3 separate regions of the Homo sapiens genome follow, and regions 1 and 2 are each linked to region 3. The links come from fine-mapping of genetic effects on gene expression. A gene starts in region 3. Each other region holds a variant in brackets. All regions are shown on one strand. Distances are between the middles of the regions. Region 1 overlaps AADACL2-AS1 (AADACL2 antisense RNA 1). Region 2 overlaps LOC107986047 (a long non-coding RNA gene). Region 3 holds the start of SUCNR1 (succinate receptor 1).

Region 1 (5,000 bases), 44 kb before region 3:
TGAGCTATTTTATTATATTTTACATGTAACTCTATGTGAACAATTGGAGGAAGTACTGGTTTAGGCCAGTGGTTCTTAAAAAGTGGTCCCAGAACCAGTAGCATCGTCATCTGGGAACCTGCTAGAACATCAAGTCATTGGAACTCACCCAGAGCTACTGAATCAGAAACTCTGGGTATAGGCCCAGAAACGTGTGTTGACAAGACTTCCAGGGGACTCTGATCAGCGAACATGTGAACAGTAGGAGGTTTCAGCAAAAGGAAAGCTCAGGATAGAAACCTTGCACCAACATGGGCTGTCTTTTGGTGTGAACATATATAGACATGTTTTTGTGCTTCCCTGGGGGTGCTGAAGAAGGCTGATGAGAGCCAAGAACCAGCAGGCCTGGAATGGCCCACAATGGTGAGGAGTAAATGTGCCAAGAGCAGAAACTGCAAGTAATCTCTTAAACTATGGGCTGGTGGAGGAGAGCATGACTGAGACTCAAGGTGTATTAGTTTGTTCTCACACTGCTAATAAAGACATACCTTAGACTGGGTAATTTATAAAGGAAAGAGCTTCAATGGACTGACAGTTCAGCATAGCTGGGGAGCCTCACAATCATGGTGGAAGGCAAAGGAGAAGCAAAGGCATGCCTTACATAGTGGCAGGTAAAAGAGCTTATGCAGGGGATCTCCCATTTATAAAACCATCAGATTTCGTGAGACTTATTCATTACCACAAGAACAGTATGGGTGAAACTGCCCTCATGATTCAATTATCTCCATCTGGCCCCACCTTTGACACGTGGAGTTTATTACAAGTCAAGGTGAGATTTGGGTGGAGACACAGCCAAACCATATCACAAGGGGTTGGCAGCATCCGAAAGCGACAAGGAGGGGCCAAGGCAGCAACACGGTGGGCCACCCACCCAGTCTAGCAAAGAGCCAGCAGGCAGGGCTGGCCCAGCAAGCTTTCTGCTCTACTCAGGTGTTCTCCTGTGAGGTAGAAAGGGAAGCAGAGAAACAGCACTTACAAAGATGTTGAAGCTTACATTCTCTGAATATTTATATAATTTTCAGCTGCTTAATTTAGAAGAAGAAGTAACTGTCATACTATCTTCCTACGCAAACCCTGACCAGCTGAGAGTCCATGTATAAGCTACAGTTACATTTTTAAAAAAAGAAGAGAAACAATTTTACAAATCTGTATTAGTGCATATATTTCAACACAACAACATAAATCTACCTGATCCATTTCATTATTTGCTTATTTAGAAACTATTTCAGAATAAAAGATTATTATTTCAGATTCCCTTGTCAGATAGCCTGGAAAATGTGAAGACTGCTTAGGGTTTTGAAACATTCACTTTGAAGTCGTCAGAAATGTTGCAGTGACAATTTTAAAACCACTTGAGGGCAGTAAAAGCACATTTCTTAACTGTACATTGCAGATGATTTAACCATAACCTCCAAAATTAAAGACTTGGCCAGAATACCTTATCTGCATTTCTAACTTTGTCTAGAGTTATGCCCCCACCCCCATCTGCCAGGTTTATATTCCTAGTTTCTCAAATTTAAGTAGAACAAGAACAAAAATTTAAAGCACACATTCTGTTTTTGGTTTCTTTCATAAGCAATATTTTTGCTGTGGCTTATAATTGATGTATTTCAGAGACATGGCTCAATTAAGTCACAAGTTCAACTTCTTTACCTCAAATGTATGTATATTTCAACATCAATTCATATATGTGAGCATGAATGTTTGTGTGTGGATATGTGTGTGTTTACCCGGAGAGATTTGAGTATATAAATAAAAATAGTCGTTATCATTATAGTGAATAAGAAGAACTCTTTTGGGCACATTTATAAAGGTACTTTACTCTTTCCCATCACAGCCCTGCAAATCCACTGTCTTGGCATCTTCTTCATCACCACCTTGAAAAAAATCTTGGGCAAGTCCCATAAATTCTCAGAAATTAAAAGAAGAAAGGTTTCCTAGTTACCTTTCCCCCCTAAATTGTTTCATTTCAGTAATTAAATCACCTATCTCTGTGTAATACTTAAAATTGCTAACTTCACCTAAAGTTAAACTTCTTCCCTTTATTTTGTCTGCTTCCCACCAGAAGTCTGCAGTGGGGAGAAGTGGTGAGGTGGTCACACACATTCTGGTCCATGTCCCTACCAAGTTTCTACTCTTCTTCCCACAAGGCTGCCTCTGACTTGAGGGTTCAAGAGAAGAAGAGGAAAGAGGTAAAGAGCAGAAGGTGTTTTCTTTCACCAATACCTCTGCAATCTGACATTCATTTGGTGGGTTGGGGGGCACTGCGGCAGTAGTTCAAATCTGCCCATTTCTCTTGTGGTCATTTTTGAGGGCTTTTGTGAGCTGTGTGACTGCACAACCAGGTCAGGGCCAACTTCATGGGTGTGAGCCCTATGTAGAATCTCAGGACCACAGGCTTAGAGGGGTCCCAGGCTTGGTTTAATGCTCTGTTGTTGCCTCTGCATTTTTAAAATAATTTTTGATCAAGAGACCCTGCATTTTCATTTTTCACTGGGCCCCAGAAATTATACAGCTGGTTTTGACTGAGCCCCTTCAACAGCAGCTTTACTGCAGGACAGTGCTTCTTTTTCAGCTGATAATTTATAATCTCCCTCTGCCTCTCGGGTCAGATTTTGCCCCTAGCAGGAACCCCCTTGGACAGGGTCCCATGAATAAAGATCACACACCAATGTCTGTCCTTAGGTTTTTTGCTCCAGAAAAGCAAACACTTGTTGGGAGCATGGCTATTATAAAACTCTCTCTGCTAGAGTCAGAAGTCATCTCAGCCAACTCTCTCCAGTCACTTTCTTCTCAGACATGAATCAGGTAATTTGATTGTGTTCCTAAGCAACACCAGACCCATGTAGGCTCTCCACTTAGTCTTTGAAGTGGAGTTTAGTCCTCTCACTGGGCTTGAGTGAGGTGGAGCATCATATCTTCCTCCTCCAGATAACTGTCAAAAACCAATTCTTTCCCTAACTCCCTGGCATCTTCAAACTTAACTCTTTTGTACCCATAAGGTGGGTGAGAAGCTAATGGTCAAAAC[G/A]TCAATTTTGGGCCCCTCCTATTTTAGGTCTGTACAGGGAGTTTAGCCTCACTTTGGAAGTTGCAAGTTCTTGCTCTCTTTGTTTTGTTCTCAGCCTTTAGGAAACTCTATAGAAACGGAGACAGAAAGAGTCTCAATATAATGCCCAATGACATCATTTATAGGGAAAACTTTTACTCGGCATTAGATATTTTGAAATTTAAATATTTATTTGAAGAACATTTTAAATATCCTCAATTCCCTTAATACATTAATATCTTCATTAGTAGAAGGGATCAATTCAACAAATATTTTGAGCATCTCCTTTGTGCAGGAATCAGTAATAAGTTGAGCTAATATGCAAATTAGCAAGAGAGCCTCCACATTCTTGAGGAGTTCACAGTTAGAAACTGAAAACACAAAGACAATTTCCTAAAGATGAGTAATAATAAAGTCGTGTACAAATGCAATAAGATCACAGGAAAGAGAGCAAATACAACTCTGGAAAAAAGAGAACATTTCACCAGAACTAAAATTAGATTTGGATTATAAAAAGATAGGAAGATGGTGGGCAGAATGTGGAGAATAATTTCGAAGCTAGAGGCAGTAATTTGTTCAAAGGCTATTGCGATAATCCAGGTAATATTATGAGGGCCTAAACTAAATCAGGGTCTCTTGGGGAAAAAGAAAAGAAGCATAAGTAGGTGGTAGAAATGAGAGAAATTATTGGCTTATTAAATGAGGAAGAAAAAGGAGCTGAAAAATAATTCTAGGAAAAAACAATCTCAAAATACCATCTTGCAGAAGATGGAGTATTAAATATAAAAATAATAGAGTATTAGAATGTATCATTTTTGTATATAAGTACATGTTAATTCATTTTAATTCAATTATGAAACAGTAGAAGTATGCTTTTTAAGATTGAGCATTTGTTTTATATAATATAGCCAATGTTGGATGTGGTAACTAGCCTGCTCTTTGCAAAATCTTATTGCTTAAATTTCCAGGAACATCATGTAGACAGGTAAGTCGATTTTAGCAAAATCCAACAAAGAAACTACTTTATGTCCAAAACTGCAATATAGTTTGTGCAAAAGTAATTTAATTAAGTTCAGAAAATGTTTACTGTATGCTGTGTGAGTTGCTGGTGGGAAAGTAAATGATGCAACTACTTTGGATGACTTTGGGAAGTTTTCAGTAAAGAGAAACATATACTTATCCTATTTCAGGAGAAATGAGAACACATCTGCTAAAAGATCAGAGTGTTTACTGAAGCTTTATTCACAATAACCAAAAACTAGATTGGATAATAAACCAGATCATGAACAATGCATTGTTTTGTTAGCATACAATGTGTATTAGTCCGTTCTCACGTTGCTATAAAAAACTACCTGAGACTGGGTAATTTATGAAGAGAAGAGGTTTGATTGACTCACAGTTCCACAGGCTTAACAGGAAGCATGATTGGGAGGCCTCAGGAAACTTACAATCATGACAGAAGGCAAAGGGGAAGCAAGCACCTTCTTCCCATGGCAGCAAGACAGTGAGAGAGCAAGTGGAGAACTGCCACACACTTTAAAACCATCAGATCTCATGAGAACTCACTATCATGAGAACATCATGAGGGAAACCGCCCTCATGATCCAGTTACCTCACACCAGGTTCCTCCACCTGACACATGGGGATGACAATTAGAGATGAGATTTGGGTGGGGACACAGAGCCAAACAATACCACAATGGATCACTATATAACAACAAAAGTGAACAAACTTGTTACGTGTAACAACATGGACACGAACATCATAGATATTATGTTGTGTGAATGACATTTAGGCACAAAAGAGTAAAGACTATATAACAGAACCTTCAATATGAGGTTCAAGAACAAGTAACACTAATAAATGATGTATTGATTTTCTATTGCTGTAGTAACAAATTAAATGTAGTGATTTT
Region 2 (5,350 bases), 57 kb before region 3:
TGAAGGATGACAATCCTTACGTTCTCTTATGCATTTCTAAAGATGAATTGATTGCGTAAAACAAAATGCTTTAAAATTTAATTTTATGCTTTTCTAATTAATTAAAGGGGTACTTTAAAAATAATGGAAAAAAACCTGGCTTAAGGTATCAGAACAATAACATATTCTTCATATGGGCTCAGAATGAATTGGCTTGACTTTGCAAAAGTCAAGGGATTTTTTCTGCCAGTGCTGAGTTCGTTCACCTTCTTAATCTTGGTTTGAAATGTGCAATATTATGTGTAGAGTGGAGACTGGGGATCCCAGAACAGAACAGAATATCCCTTTGAGTTTTTTTTTTTCTTTTTTTTTTAAATTTTGCTCTGTCACCCAGGCTGGAGTGCAGTGGCGCAATCTTGGCTCACTGCAACCTCTGCCTCACAGGTTCAAGCGGTTATCCTGCCTCAGCCTCCCTATAGCAGGGATTACAGGTACGTGCCACCATGCCTGGCTAATGTTTGTATTTTTAGTAGAGACGGGGTTTCACCATATTGGCCAGGCTGGTCTTGAACTCCTGATCTTAAGTGATCCACCCGCCTTGGCCTCCCAAAGTGCTGAAATTATAGGCGTTAGCCACCGTGCCCGGCCCTTTGAGATTTAATATAAAGAATTAAAGATTAATATTAAGACTTGCCTTAGAGTGACTCATGGATTCAATAGTCGTCTCCTTCTAAAATAAAATAACCCTAGGTTTTTTAGAGGGAAATGATTAGAGGTTCTGACTAACCAAGTTTCAATTCAAAAGGGCCAAAATTTACTTTTTAACCTCAAGCCAAATGAACTTCTTGAATCTCAGCCGATTTTATTTTATAACTGGAAAGTACCGGGACCACCCTGAAAAAACAGATGATAATTTGCCTTTAAAGAAAAAAGGTTTATTAAATAAATATTGATTTCCAGGAGAAAAGCTCAAGACACAGATGTCCACACCCAACAACTAGCTAATCTACTTTAAATGCCAAAGATGAATACAAAAAAAGAAAAAGAAAAAGAAACTACAACTTTTATCTGCAATTTGACAGGTACATGAAATACTTTGACCAAATTTTAGTTGCCTGGAGCTTAGGTTCCAAATGCTTTACTTCTTTAGTTTAAAATATTTAATGAATTTTTAATTAAAATATTTGAATATAAAGTGCTATTTAAATAATTTTTTTTAGTGTTCTCATTCTCCTTTCCCTATGACTAATGATTGAGGAAATAGTCATTTTCACTCAAATATTATTTGAAGCTAGTTGTCTCCTTTACCTCAAAAATTAGCATTAACACTGCTGACTATTCACACCTTTTTCTTGTCATTTTTCATTAAGAACATTTAGCCTGAGAAGGCACAAGAGAAAATGTAAGATGATCTGCAGAGTGTTTGTACTTCAAGTTGATGTGTAATCTTTTCAAATGTTTTAATGTTAATATGTAAATAAATAATTCCCTGCATACATTTACTAATTTACATCAGAATATTTTAGAATTTTATTCTATGAAGCTGATTTGTTTATGCAGTGTTGTGAAATTGGTATTAATATACTAATGAGTAAGACCTAGTATGTACTGACTGATTGCTCCTATTGGTAAATTTTATATTTGGGGAAAATATAGTCAGGTGAAATACGTTTTGATAATAAGGTTGAGTTTTTCTCAGAAAATTAAAACAATGTTATCGAAAGATTTACTTACAAAACACCTTATTATCCAGATGTCAGATCCATAAATACTATAGAGATGTGAAAGTTATTCCCCTTACTCCCTAATAATGAAGGACCCCTCAGTAACTATGTAGTTGGTTATCTTTTTAAAGGGTTGAGTGGCAAGAATTGTCAGTGAATGTTGACTTCATTTTTCTCACTTTGCTTTCGGTGATAAGATGCCTTTTAAAGCAAACACTATTCAAAATTTGAGACAGAGTAAAATTATTAAGTCTGGTCTTCCAAATCATGTTCTCTCTATGAAAATATAGAGTCACAGGACTCCTGGCCCTGTGTTTTTATGAGTCATAGGATTTCTATGGTGAAAAATAAAAGATGAATAAACCTAAGATCTGAGAAAAATAAAAAGAACCCCTTCAATACAATGTTATGTCATGACCAGGCTCTCTGTTTTTGATATATGTATGTGTGTGTTTATAAAGAAAATTTTTCAAAAAATTATTTTGTCTCATCTTCAGAGCTTCTTGGGTTTGTAAAAAATTAGATTAGAGGAAGTAGCTGGCAAGTTAGGCATTAGAAACCAAAGCCTGCCAGTGCCAGACCAGGCATGGTGGCTCACACCTGTAATCCCAGCACTTTGGGCGAAGGTGAGAGGATCACTTGAGGCCAGGAGTTTGAGATCAGCCTAGGCAACACAGCATGACCTTGTATCTATAAAATATTAAATGAAAAAATATTTCCAGGTGTGGTGGTGCACGCCTGTAGTGCTAGCTACTGGGGAGGCTGAAGCAGGAGAATTGTTTCAGGAGTTTGAGGCTGCAGTGAGCTATGGCCATGCCACTGCACTCCAGCCTGGTTGACACAACAAAACCCTAGCCCTTAATTAAAAAAAAAACAAAAAAACAAAAAAGCCTGCCAGATGATGCCTATGATTTCAATGAAAATGACAACAGGAGTAACCTTAATGATGCAGAAACAATACAGTCCTGGCTTACCAAGTGCTCTTGTATCCACTTTGCTTTAACAGAGCAAATTTTTATGAATGAATCCAGATGGCTACTCCAGTTGCCTTCCAGCATATGGACAAAGGTGAGAGTGATTTTTTCTGATATGATATTCTGCTTTCTAGTTGGTGACAAATATTTTACCCCTTGAGATGAATTTTAAAATCTTTCCCTTGGCCAGGTGCGGTGGCTCACGCCTGTAATCCTAGCA[C/G]TTTGGGAGGCCGAGGTGGGCAGATTGACTGAGTTCAGGAGTTTGAGACCAGCCTGGGCAACACGGTGAAACTCCATTTCTACTAAAAAAGAAAAAATTAGCCAGGCGTGGCGGCGTGCACTGATAGTGCCAGCTACTCGGGAGGCTGAAGCAGGAGAATTGCGAGACTCCATTTCCAAAACAAACAAACAAACAAACAAACAAAAAAACCCATTTCCCTTTCTGGATCAGAGCACAAATGATACAATTTTTAAAAAATACCTTGGTTTTCTTTCTTGTCTGTTTGCACAAACCTGCTTTCAACCTCATGATTGTTTCTTCCAATTGAGATCTGATTGGCAAAGCCACAGACTAAGCCACCTAGTCTCCCCCTTTGATACTGTCATGTTTTAGTTAGAGAATATCAAAAAAGAAGGGACCTTAAGATCACTTGGTCCAACCCCTCATTTGTAAGACAATGAAACAGGAGCAGAGAGGTGAAGGGTCCTGTTCAAGGTAACATGGCAAAGTAGTAACAGGTTTGGTTTAGATGTAGCAGAGGGGCTCTTTCTTCTACATTCTTTGGGTTGTGCAGCTTCTTCCTTTTTTTTAACTGTTTATTATATAAATGTTGTTTAAAAGTGGCCATTTTTTCCTTTTCTAACTGAATAATATAAACATGATATGTTAGGCTGATATCACTGGTGGTGGTGGCTGCCTATCACATGCAGTCCCTTCCTTTCTTGGGCAAGGAATGGGGTAAGGAATTATCCATTACTTTCGGTGTCCACAAAAGTAAGAAATGATGGGCGCTTGCTTTTGCAGATTTTGCAGTACCGAGGATAAAGGCATATAACCTGCCAGGAAATCCACTCTAGAGCAAGTGATGCAAAGATACAGGGACAAAGGAGATTTTTGTCCCAGTGCAGGTAGCAGAGACAAGAGTTCCAGAGTCTGAACAGTGCTGGTGACAGCGCTAATGACAGGCAATGTCCGGGGTTGGTAGGGGCAATACCTGGTATTCTGCAGTGCGGCCATAATGTTTCCGGAATTGGTGGGTTCTTGGTCTCACTGACTTCGAGAATAAAGCCGCGGACCCTCGCGGTGAGTGTTACAGCTCTTCAGGTGGCGCATCTGCGTCTGGAGTTTGTTCCTTCTGATGTTCGGATGTGTTCGGAGTTTCTTCCTTCTGGTGGGTTCTGTGGTCTCGCTGGCTCAGGAGTGAAGCTGCAGACCTTCGCGGTGAGTGTCACAGCTCATAAAGGCAGTGCGGCCCCAAAGACTGAGCAGCAGCAAGATTTATTGCAAAGAGTGAAAGAACAAAGCTTCCACAGTGTGGAAGGGGACCCGAGCGGGTTGCCACTGCTGGATGGGGCAACCTGCTTTTATTCTCTTATCTGGCCCCACCCACATCCTGCTGATTGGTAGAGCCCAGTGGTCTGTTTTGACAGGGCGCTGATTTGGTGCGTTTACAATCCCTGAGCTAGACACAAAGGTTCTACACGTCCCCACCAGATTAGCTAGATACAGAGTGTCCACGCAAAGGTTCTCCAAGGCCCCACCAGAGTAGCTAGATGCAGAGTGTCGATTGGTGCATTCACAAACCCTGAGCTAGACACAGGGTGCTGATTGGTGTGTTTACAAACTCTGAGCTAGACACAGAGTGCAGATTGGTGTATTTACAATCCCTGAGCTAGACACAAAGGTTCTCCAAGGCCCCACCAGAGTAGCTAGACACAGAGTGTTGATTGGTGCATTCACAAACCCTGAGCTAGACACAGGGTGCTGATTGGTGTGTTTACAAACCTTGAGCTAGATACAGAGTGCTGATTGGTGTATTTACAATCCCGGAGCTAGACATAAAGGTTCTCCACGTCCCCACCAGACTCAGGAGCCCAGCTGGCTTCACCCAGTGGATCCCGCACCGGAGCTGCAGGTGGAGCTGCCTGCCAGTCCCGCGCCGTGCGCTCGCACTCCTCAGCCCTTGGGTGGTCGATGGGACTGGGCGCCGTGGAGCAGGGGGTGGCACTTGTCTGGGAGGCTCGGGGCCGCACAGGAGCCCATGGAGGGGGTGGGAGGCTCAGGCATGGCGGGCTGCCGGTCCCGAGCCCTGCCCTGCGGGAAGGCAGGTAAGGCCCGGTGAGAAATCGAGCGCAGCGCCGGTGGGCTGGCACTGCCGGGGAACCCAGTACACCCTCCGCAGCCGCTGGCCCGGGTGCTAAGCCCCTCATTGCCCGGGGTCGGCGGGGCCCGCCCGCTGCTCCGGGGGCGGGGCCCGCCAAGCCCACGCCCACCCGGAACTCCAGATGGCCCGCAAGCGCCGCGCGCAGCGCCGGTTCCCGCTCGCGCCTCTCCCTCCACACCTCCCTGCAAGCTGAGGGAGTGGACTCTGGCCTTGGCCAGCCCAGAAAGGGGCTCCCACAGTGCAGCCGTGGGCTGAAGGGCTCCTCAAGTGCCGCCAAAGTGGGAGCCCA
Region 3 (5,350 bases):
TTTTCATGCTCTTTTGTGGCTTAATCCTTCTTTGCCCAAGTTTTAAATGTTGGACCTTCTCAGGCCTTATTTCTGAGCTCTTGTTATTTTGTGGGTACTCAAAAAGCTGGTGCACAAATTCAAATGAAAATTAAGGTATAGAAAGTTTCCTTGACACAAGAAATTTGTTTCACTTTTGCATTTCCTTTTTTTCTGGTCATAACGTTTATCTTTCTGCCTAGTCACCACTGGTAATGTTAATAGCTTATGTATTGTGCACAGCAGAAAGATTTGACTGCAATGGAAGGAAAATATAGCCACAAAGACTTGTGCAACTAGAGCCTGATTTCCTGCAACTATCACTCAGGCAGGTGACGGGTCACATGAAAGTCAAGGAGCATTCTGCTTTATAGTAGCCCAGAAGGTCGGGGATTGAAGGAGTAGTAGGGAAGGAGTAGAGCTGAAATAAGAGAAATGAATGACTAAATTATCATATTTGTCTTTCTTCTCATACAGTTGTTTCTTCATTTTTTTGAAACAACTTTTTAAAAATGTATGTGTAAAATTATTGTTAAGGTGTAACACTCATAAAATCAAATAGGCAAAAATAAGAAATAAAAATGGTCTGTAAACAGACCACTCCTAATATTTGGGTACCCTTTTACATTTTAATATTTACCTGAATTTTTATTCATAAAAATGAGATTTTTTTATGATGTTTTATAATTTTTTGATACATTTGTTTCATTTTTTCTAAGTTCATAATTCTAATAGATTATGATTTTATAAATATGAGCTGTGCAATATTTGCAGACCAATTTAACTTCACTAGGATACAAAATTTTGAAGATACTATATTTCAAATTGGATATGTTTATAGTTGGGTATGTTTTTAGTGTGGCATCGCAATTCTATAAACATATGAAGTAAGTTGCTCCTTTAAGCAAAACTCCCAATTAAAGAGAAAATTCCCTCATGAAAAATTCATATTCTCTCTTCTGCTATCTAGTGGCTATATTCTTAATTTTTAGGAAATGGAAATAGTGATAAATAAATTGTAACTGATTTGGATGAATTATTTTGAATAGGTATTTTTTAAGAGCAGAAATTAAAGTGAAATCTTTAGTTTCCAGTCCAAAAATATATCTAAAACTGTTAGAATTATTGAACTAGAAGCAATATCTAATTTACTCACATAAGCAGACCAATAATACTTAACTTGAAAATGTTTTTTACTTTAAATATATTCAGCCTTTTGAAAATCTGCATTTTTGAAATTTACTTTAAAATATATATGTGATAGTTTCTTAGCTTTTTAATTGTTTGTTTTTATAGTCATCACAATTAAACAAATAACATTTGTAAAATGTTTACTTTTAAGTGCTACCTTAAGGCAAATTTACATGGTAACATGAGAATTTTTTTTAACAAATTACTTTTTTGATTACTAAATAATTTGAGCAAAAATATATATTCACACTGAAAAGATATAATAATTTAACATTTGTAACTTTATTTTTATGTATTCCATACATTACACCAGAAATTAAGGTATTAAAAAGTAATAGTATGGCACAAATTGTGTATTAACTTCTTTAAGAATACCACACACATTTTGAAAAGTTATGGAAGGTAGAATAGAAATGGTTTCTGCAATTTTTCATTTTTCCTAAGTAAATTAATTATTGGGTAATATCATTTTTACACACATAAATGTTAAATTTAATTTTTAGGATGCCTGAAAATTCCCCCAAATACATTATTTTCTAAACATAAAAATATTATGCCCCAGCACAGTGGCTCATGCCTGGAATCCCAACACTTGGAGAGGCCGAGATGAGTGGATCACCTGAGGTCAGGAGTTTGAGACCAACCTGACCAACATGGTGAAACTCCATCTCTACTAAAAAATCCAAAAAAAATAGCCGGGCGTGGTGGTGGGCGCTTGTAATCCTAGCTACTCTGCAGGCTGAGGCAGGAGAATTGCTTGAACCCCAGAGGCGGAGGTTGCAGTGAGCCAACACATGCTGTAAATGTGTCACTCTGGCACTCAGACACTCTAGCCTGGGTGACAAGAGTGAAACTCTGTCTTAAAAAAAAAAAAAAAAAAAAAAAATATATATATATATATATATATGTATGTATATGTGTGTGTGTGTGTGTGTGTGTGTGTGTGTGTATGTATCAAATACATGATTGTTTCAAATCATTTAGGAACTTTAATTTTTCCCCATAAGTAGTTATATTTATTTAGGTAAATCCAATTACTATTTTGTTGAAATATAAGTTGTTGAGATGTTAGCAAATATAATAAATCCTTTTACATAAAATAAAATTAGTATTTGACAACTAAAAGAAGACAGTTAATTTGTTGAAAAATAAACGTAGAGATAAAAATGACTTTTTTTTTTCAATTATTTTGCTGTTTTACATCTATTTATAAAGAATTAATTTAAACACTTAATACTGAAAACCTTAATTGCTCACAGGTCACCTTTAGAAGGAAATCTGGCCTTACTTTATACACTGAGAGGCACAATTTGCCATGTAGCTTACCATTCTGTTGGAAGACTTGATCCCTTGACAGGAACTCTGCCAGCAGCTGGATATAGCTTCTGACCCAGTGTTGTGCCACTGGACATGGTTATTACAGTGTCCTATTTGCATATCCTATTTGCATATCCTGCAGCCAAGATTAATAATTCAAAAGCCCAGGAATAATTTATTCAGTCAAACCTCCCAGTCAGAGATGTTCATGCAGAGGAATTTTTGTGAGGCTTTTATTTTCACATTCACATTTATTTTATTTTCACATGCAGTTTTGCAATTGAATGACAAAAAACAAGTAACTCATTTCACAGGAAACACATTTACCAAATAGATTTTTAGAAAAACACTGTTGAACTTATTTTATCCACTACCAAAGCAACAGAGAAGCATTCCTTATTTTCATTTTATTTGCATATTTACACAATAAGAAGTGGTAAATACTGCTTATATTGGGAATACAGTTGCCTCTGCTTTTCTTCTTTTTTAAAATTAATTTTCTTAGTGAATTCTGTATTGAGAATATAATAACGAAACCTCTGTTTTCAATAACTTTGAGGGAACTATAAAACTGAAATTTTAAAGGGAAACCTGGATATATGCTATGTTGGTGTACTAGCAAAAAGATACTAGAGCTTCAAGTTATTTTCCATTTTATTTTCTGTGCTTAAAATCAAGAAACACATAAAAGATACATCAGATAGCTAGGGATTAGGGAGAGAGATGCTAAGTAAAATAACCTTAATAGATGGCAATTTATATATCCCAATCAATGCTCTGAAAAACATCTGGAAGTACATTACCACCATTTCAGACAGGAAGCACACCTGGCTTTTTCCAAGCATTATATTAGGTTTAGATTCAAGTAAACACTCAGTCTTCTTGATGTGAAGCATAGGGATTATACTAAGAAAGCCCATAATTGTGCAGGCAGCAGTAATTCAATTTAAATGCTATGTAAGTTGAATATTGAGTTAGCAATGACAGGCAGAAGCCCAAAAAGAAGCTCTGTTACAGGCATCCTCCTAACTAAGCATTTCTCCTCACCAATATCTGACAGCTTAAAAACTCAGGAACTCAAAATATATGTATGTATATATACACATACATATATACATACATATGTGTCTATATTACACACTTTATATACATGTGTAAAATATATTTATACATGTATGAATATTTATGTATACAAACATGTGCATTTACATGAAATAAAAATATCTATAATTTGTTGAGTTCTTGTGATGTGGCAGGCAGGTATTACACTAAGTACCTTTATGCATCAAATGCATATAGTAATCCTCTGAGGTTGTTATTATTTAAGATTTTTCTCATTTTGCAGATTAAAAAGCTAAGGTTCAGAGAGGTCAATTAACTTTCTCAAGATTGCAGAATCAATAACGGGAGGGACCAGAGCTTAAGCCTATGTACTTGGATTCTAAAAGCACCGACTCTGATTCTTGACTGCCTACAGAATTGAATGACAATACCCTTGTGCACAACAAAGTCTAAGAATTAATAACAGGTATTTTTCAGTAATGCAATTCTTTTCTACTTTTAGAAGGAAGAAAGGTTAAAACATTATTTTTGTCTATATTTTTAAAAGGGCAAAAAGCATTTGAATAACCAATGCCAGGCTTGTTAATTTTAGACATAAATTAACATGAACCCCTTCCAAGAAACAAAGACAAATGGATGTATTTCACAGGTTTCTGCCACCATTCTGATGGAAGAAAAGAGTAATTCCCCCTTTGTGGGGTGGTGGGAGTTCCCGAGAGCTTCCTCTTTCTTCGTCCCACTTCCTGACTACCATCTCACTCTGGCTGCTAAGACAAAAATTGGTCTATGCTTCTCCTTTTTCATAGAACACGTCATCTAGACTGTAGCCTGGTAGCCTTGTTTCCCTCCCAAGTCCTACTTCCTGTTTCCTCCGAATGCTCTCAGTTGAGATACTAGAGTGTTACTGGGAAAGACTTACTAAAAGGTCACGAGTATTTCTGCTACAAAGCTTTATGCAGGTCTGCAAAATGATAGCTGCACGGGAACAAGGCTGGATTCAGAATTATGACCCTGTGAGCAGGGTGGGTTTCATGGTATGCTACTGTGTAGTCTCACAGTGCTTCACACTCAAAAAAGATCACACAGTTGAGTTAATGCTCTACTGTCACATTCTTAATTAAAATGTTTCATAACTTCTTAACAAGGGACCCCATATATTTCTTTTGCACTGGGCTCTACTAAATATGTAGCCAGTTCTGCCTGTGAGAGTAGAAACCTCCTCAGAAACTATTTCTATTCAGTATAGCACATCAAATTTTGAGGGGGCAAAGTTTTTTTGTTTTGTCTTTTTTTTTTTTTTACATATAACATGTTGAGATGCACTGCTTGAGAATCAATGGAAGTTTGAAAGGCAGTGAAAGTTTGCAGTACTGGCCGGGCATGGTGACTCACACCTGTAATTTCAGTACTTTGGGAGACCAAGGCAGGCGGATCACTTGAGTCCAAGAATTGGAGACCAGCCTGGGCAAAGTGGCAAAACTCTGTCTCTACAAAAAATGCAAAAATTAGCTGGGGCATGGTGGTGCGTGCCTTTAGTTTCAGCTACTCGGGAGGCTTGAGGATGGCCTGAACCTGGGGAGGCCGAGGCTGCAGTGAGCCATGATTGTGCCACTGCCCTCCAACCTGGGAGACAGAGTGAGACCCTGTCTCAAAAAAAAAAAAAGTTAAGTACAACAATGAACACTTTTTAAAATATATATTTTTTAAAAGCTTGTAGTACTGTTTGCTAAGAGGTAGTATAACACAGTGTTTAAGAGCATAG

The links. PIP is the estimated chance that this variant, and not a neighbour inherited with it, causes the effect.
Region 1: its variant is fine-mapped to the expression of SUCNR1 in whole blood (TOPMed, PIP above 0.99).
Region 2: its variant is fine-mapped to the expression of SUCNR1 in whole blood (TOPMed, PIP above 0.99).

What each region holds. Positions count from the first base shown.
Region 1 is chr3:151,914,846-151,919,845 of GRCh38, reverse strand. The region is part of intron 1 of AADACL2-AS1 (AADACL2 antisense RNA 1); the gene reads left to right. Among named protein-coding and RNA genes, the nearest start is that of AADACL2-AS1, 11 kb to the left of the region's middle. The variant G/A (reference allele first, on the strand shown) is at 3,068.
Region 2 is chr3:151,928,036-151,933,385 of GRCh38, reverse strand. LOC107986047 (a long non-coding RNA gene) reads left to right here. Exons shown (of 3, transcript XR_001740567.1): 2 at 940-1,061; 3 at 2,710-2,834. AADACL2-AS1 (AADACL2 antisense RNA 1) reads left to right here and starts at 5,211. Exons shown (of 3, transcript NR_110203.1): 1 at 5,211-5,350. The variant C/G (reference allele first, on the strand shown) is at 2,898.
Region 3 is chr3:151,870,892-151,876,241 of GRCh38, reverse strand. SUCNR1 (succinate receptor 1) reads right to left here and starts at 2,599. Exons shown (of 3, transcript NM_033050.6): 1 at 2,536-2,599. All of the region lies in intron 1 of AADACL2-AS1 (AADACL2 antisense RNA 1), which reads left to right.